Regions from separate parts of the Homo sapiens genome. Here region 2 is linked to region 1. The links come from fine-mapping of genetic effects on gene expression. A gene starts in region 1. The other region holds a variant in brackets. All regions are shown on one strand. Distances are from middle to middle. Region 1 holds the start of THAP7 (THAP domain containing 7). Region 2 overlaps AIFM3 (AIF family member 3).

Region 1 (3,003 bases):
ACCCAAACCCGATCCACAGGTTCTGTGTAGCAAGAACCCTGTCCAGCGAGACTGCTGGCAGACACCCCTAGGGCCCAGTCCCTCAGCCTAGGGGTGGGAGTGGGGCATCCCCCACCCATATCACATACCGCTTCCTGCATCGTCTGAGCCGGCTGACTTCAGCGGGGCCAGGTGGGTAACTGTGTCCTTTGGTCTTGGTTGTCCGGCGCAACTTGGAGAAAGACTCAAATATGGTGGGGACTGCCCCCTCCTTTAGCCTGTGATATCCACTGCGGGGAAAAGCAACCCAGATGAGCTGGAGAGCAAGTGCTGCCTCCCCAGGCCAATCTGCCCCCAGCAGCAGCGCCGTGGGATGCTGGAAGGCATCGTGCAAACAATACGTCTGGGGAACGCCAAGTTACAGCTACACCAATCGCTTCCCCGCAGGACTCCTCACAGTCCAGGTGTGTGGAAAGCCTGCATAAGCCGAGCTGGGCTGACCAGCCAGAAAGAATTCTTTGATTTGTGGACTTGCTGGCAAGACTGGGGCTCTGAAAGATACTCTCTGGAAAGGCTCCTGTTTTCCCCTTGTGTCACAGGCACAGTGATCCTGGGGGTGGGTTTCACTGTGCAGAGCTGGGAACAGGAAACAGCCCCCTTGGACGCAGGCTGCTCAAGGGACTTCCATGACCTGCAGCTGTCCCAGTCCGCCGGGAGCCCCACATCCTACCCCAGCGTCGGCCGGCAGGGAGGCCCACCTGATTCCCACCAGCTCAAAGCAGTCCTCCTCAAAGTGTTTGGAGCAGAAGTAGATGTACTCGGATGCCGGGTCCCACAGGCCCTGGCCGCTGGGGTCCAGCCGCTGGCAGTTGGCCAGCCACAAGCCTCGCCTCGGGTTGTCCTTCTTGGGAAGTCTGTGGAGCCACAAACCCGTGAGCACCAGGCTGTCCACAGCCCTGGGCTCATGCTGCCCAAGCACCCCAGAGGGGAAACGCAGACCCAACACGCGCCGCCACGAGACCTCCCTGCGACCCCGCCGGGTAAGCACCACCGCCCGGGCACAGACGAGGCAACGGAGGCCTCGAGAAGAAAAGCAGTTTCCTCAGCGTCATCTGGCAGGTAACAGAGTGGGGCGGGTCCAAGCCGGCTAGACTTCCCGTCCTCCCCTTCCCGACTGCATTCAGTCCCGCCGGGACCGTTCCGCTTCACCTCCCACCCACAGGTTCAAGCCTCCTCAGTATCTGAGAAAGGCGCGAAGCCTCTACGCAGTTGCGACCCGAGGCGAGCAACAACTAGCGCATGCGCACGTGAGCCCGCGGCGCACGCGCGCTGACCTGTGGAAGGAGATGCCGCGGTTGCGCGTCTCGCGCGTGTCCCGTGTGCAGCAGCCGGCGGCGGAGCAGTGACGCGGCATCTGGGAAAGAGGCGGGAGTTAAGTCGCAAGCGGCTCTCCGGGCATCCGGAGGAGCCTCGCGCCTCCAGCCGCCGCTCCTCCCCAAGGGGCTCTGGCCTGTCGGGTCCCCCCCGGCCCGTTGTCGCCCCAACCCCGTCCCAGCCGATTCTCTTGACTTCTGTCAGCGGCACTCACGCTCTGGCCATTGCTGCGCCGCCGAAGTCTCGCGAGGGGTAGCGCGCGCCGGAAGTTGGTACCATAGAGACTGGAGAGCCGGAGGTGCCCCCGCCACCGGGGCGGGGCGGGGCGAGGTCCTAGCTAGCTGGGTTAGTAAGCGGCGCGAGCGTGCGAGTTTCTGACGCGCCCGCGTCGTCCCAGCTCCCTGGACTACCAGTATTGTCGCCCACGTGGGCTTCTCTTTCGTCCGCTCAGGCCTCACTTTTCTCCGTAAACACCCCGGCACGATGGAGCGGCCCCAGCGTTCGGGAGCGGCCCGGGAGCGGAAAGCGGCAGTGTCCTGGGAGCCTCGAAAGCCGCAGGGGCGGCAGCTCGCCTCGGAATGACCTCTGACGGAAGAAATAAAACGGGGCCTGGGACGCTTGCACGAAAGAACCCGACAAAAACCAGAGCCCGCACTCACTCTCGTACTGGGGAGGTGGACTTCAGGGAGGGTTATCTGGAGGAGGAATCTCTCAAAGTACAACACAGGAGAAAGACAGTATCGCAATACAGAAATTTTATTTTTTATTTTATTATTATTTTCCTGAGACCGGAGTCTCGCTCTGTCGCCCAGGCTGGAGTGCAGTGGCGCGATCTCGGCTCACTGCAAACTCCGCCTCCCGGGTTCACGCCATTCGGCTGCCTCACCCTCCACAGTAGCTGGGACTACAAGCGCCCGCCACCACGCCCGGCTAATTTGCAATACGGAAATTTTAATAGGTAATTAGCTCTCCTAGCGTTATGGTGGGGAATACAGAGGGATGGTTGCCTGCCGCACCCTCCCCTCACTATTCTTCGCCTTCTTCAGCCTCAGCTTCCACGGAATCCATGCCCACATCTTCATAATCCTCCAGAGCTGCCAGATCCTCGCGGGCCTCGGAGAATTCCCCCACTGCCATGCCCTCCCCCACGTACCAGTGCACTAAGGCGCACTTGGCCGAACTTATGGTCCAGGCAGGCCCAGGCCTCCGTGATGGCCGTGGTGTTGCTCAGCATGCACACCGCCCGCTGCACTTTGGCCAGGTCTCCCACAGGGACCACCGTGGGGGGCTGGTAGTTAATGCCCACCTGTCAGAGATGGGCAGCATAGAATGAAGTTTATATTGGCCTCAGAAATGGGAGCTCATTAAAAATCAGAGCTGTGGACCAGTTCCAACACTGTGTTTTAAGAATTGCTTCTATATTTTTTGGCATTATCTGTTATCTATCGACAATTAATATCCTTTGACGACTTTTTTTTTTCTTTTCTTCTCCTTCTTCCTCCTTCTCCTCCTTCTTTGTTGTTGTTGTTGAGACAGGGTCTAGCTCTGTTGCCCAGGCTGGAGTGCAGTGGTGCAATCTCGGCTCACTGCAACCTTTGTCTCCCAGGTTCAAGCAATTCTCCTACCTCAGCGTCCTGAGTAGCTGGGATT
Region 2 (2,752 bases), 33 kb before region 1:
GCTGTGGGATTTGGAGAGGGGAAGGGGGGCACGAGGAGGCAGTAGAAATCAGGGAGGATTTCCTGGGCAAGGCAGCCGCGGGGCTGGACGATGGGCGGCCGAGGTTCGGGCAGAGGAACTCCACTGGAGGAGTGAGGGAGCTGAGCTTGGAGGGCTTCAAAGGGGAGGTGACCTCCAGGGCCCCACGCTCTGGGATCAGGCTCACGCCATGGTTCCCAGCTCAAATGTAAGACTCTTTCCGAAGCTCCCACTGTCTCTCTCCGTCCCTCTGTGTCTCTACCTGCCCACACGCCCCGGTCCTGATGGCTCCAGTCTCCCCTGCAGGTCCTAGAGCAGCTCCAGCAGGATGGCGGCTCCAGCGTCTCTAAGGCCTGCAGGGGGTCCAGCCCCATGGGGGGCGCCCTAGGCCTCCGACAGCTCCCCATCTGTGCTCCTGCCTGCCGGCCATCCTCAGGCCACTCGCCATGGGCGGCTGCTTCTCCAAACCCAAACCAGGTACCTCCTGTCTTCTTGTCTCCATCCTTTCTCCTCCCTCCCCGCCTCCTCCTCCCCCGTCTCCCCCCCCTCCCCCTCTGCACTCGGTAGGCCTCCGAAGTAGGTCAGGCTATCCAAGAACCCGCTCGGAATGTTAATACGCTGCCGCCAGGAGGGGGTAGGGGGCCTGGAGCAGTTCCCCCAGCTGGCCCCTGCTCCAGTGGGTGCCCCTTTTTCTTTGGGGCTTTGAGTGTTGGTGGTGGGAATAACAGCAGGACCCTTCTTGGAAAAGGAAAGTCAGGGTTCCTCCTGTTGCAGGGTTGGGGAAGGGGCTATGCCCCCAGGGCCAGGGAAGGGGGGAGCTGGGGACACGCTCAGCCACTCTGTGACCTAGGGCATGCAAGTTACCCCTCTGAGCCTCTGTTTTTCTCTCTGCAAAAGAGAGGGCCTGGCCACCCTGACCTCTTAGAGTTGCTGTGAGGGTGTAGTGGGCAGATCCTGGCTCTCTTTGCCTCCTCTGATCCCCTGTGTGGTCTCGGGCTGCCTTCTTGGCCTTTCTGGGCACACTTCCCCATTTATACAGGAAATCACCA[T/C]CCAACCTAGCCTGAGCTACTCCAGCCAGAAGTGGGAGTGTCCTGGGGTGCTAGGGGAGGCCTGGGTCTTTTCTCCACTAAAGACTCATGTCTGCGGAGCTCTCCCTCTGGCCCCCCACTTTCCCTCTTCTCTCCTCACAACACCTGGGGAGGCAGGAGTGTGCAGCTTTGTCACAGGTGGAGAAACTGAGGCTTAGAGAGACCTCAAGAGCGCAGCCAGTGCTCCACTCAACCTGCCAGGCCACGCTGCCCCAGCCAGCTCACCCCAGCCAGCTCACCCCAGCCAGCTCACCCCAGCTCCCCTTACCTGATACCCATCAGCTCCGTTACCTTGGAACTTGTGAGGCTTTTCTCCCTTTCCTGGGTCTAAGGGAGAACTTGGGCGAGGGAGGAGGGCTGTGATGACCCACCAGGCAGAGGGACCCACTTGCCTCTGCTCCAAGAAGCCACTCTTCCTCCCCCGCTCCTGTGCTGTGGACACCTAGGCCTGGGCTGGATCCCTCTCTGCCTCAAAATGTGCCTTGGGCAGATGACGTCCATTGTCTCCCCCTAGCAGTGGGTGGGATGATGCCAGCTGGCCTCATACCAGGCGTCTGTGGCACCGCTGGGCTGGCAGGAGGCCCTGGCAGAAGATGCCACCTGCAGGTTCTTTTAAAGGACCCCAAATGGCTGGCCTGCCTGGGACCCGTGGCCCCAGGACTTCCAGTGTCGGGGGTGGCCACCCTCACCAAAGGCAGTCCTAAGAACTTAGGCAAATCCAGCCCTGCCCCTTTCTGGCTGTGTGGCCTTGGGCAGGTGATTTCCCCTCTCTGAGCCTCTGCATCCTCATTGTAAAGTGGGGCTGTTGTGCCTAGCATGAGGGCCTGGCACACCAGAAGCACTTGCGGAATTTTTTTTTTTTGAGACAGAGTTCACTCCTTCTCCCATGCTGGAGTGCAGTGGCGTGATCTCGGCTCACTGCAAGCTCCGCCTCCCAGGTTCATGCCATTCTCCTGCCTCAGCCTCCCAAGTAGCTGGAACTACAGGCGCCCGCCACCACGCCCAGCTATTTTTTTGTATTTTTAGTAGAGACGGGGTTTCACCGTGTTAGCCAGGATGGTCTCTATCTCCTGACCTTGTGATCCGCCCATCTCGGCCTCCCAAGGAATATTATTTGTTATCCCTTTTCTGAGCTGGGCTCTGTGCTGCCAGGCCTCCCCTGTGGGGCTGTAGCCAGAGGCTCAGGCCCCAGGTGCCCATGCTGGGCAGGTCAGGCATGAGGCTCAGGGAATTTCCAGATATGGGAGTGACAGCATTTGGGGCCTGAGGGTTCAGCTGGGGTCTTAAGGGGCCACAAAGAGACTAGATCAAGCAGAAGACCTCTGTGCAAATCCTTCACTTTCTATCTTGCTCCACTCGATTCTGTGGCTCCGTGTGCATCAGCACCTGCTTCCTGGGTTCCCTCTGTGCTCCTGTGTGTCCTGTCTGAGTAGTTGATAAGAAGGTATCAGACCAGTCCCTCACCTAGCTCAGAGCTAGGAGGAAGTGCAGCTCTCTTAGCATCTGTTCACCTGCCTTTTATTAGGCCATAACTGATACCTAAAGGCTTTCCATCCTCACCATGGCTGCTAGGAGGCTCAGAGCTAACTGGTAAAACACTGCTGCCCAACTCCATCTATTGAGCTTCTACTCTGGGTTACATACAG

Evidence for each region.
Region 2: its variant is fine-mapped to the expression of THAP7 in monocytes (TOPMed, PIP 0.99).

What each region holds. Positions count from the first base shown.
Region 1 is chr22:21,000,519-21,003,521 of GRCh38, forward strand. It overlaps THAP7 (THAP domain containing 7), which reads right to left and starts at 1,600. Exons shown (of 4, transcript NM_030573.3): 1 at 1,314-1,600; 2 at 738-893; 3 at 129-269. The coding sequence starts at 1,393. THAP7-AS1 (THAP7 antisense RNA 1) reads left to right here and starts at 1,404. Exons shown (of 2, transcript NR_027051.1): 1 at 1,404-2,311. RefSeq lists an enhancer at 454-663 and silencers at 1,264-1,433, 1,454-1,563, 2,205-2,595.
Region 2 is chr22:20,967,481-20,970,232 of GRCh38, forward strand. It overlaps AIFM3 (AIF family member 3), which reads left to right. Exons shown (of 21, transcript NM_001386814.1): 2 at 325-495. The coding sequence starts at 465. Among named protein-coding and RNA genes, the nearest start is that of AIFM3, 1.6 kb to the left of the region's middle. The variant T/C (reference allele first, on the strand shown) is at 1,068.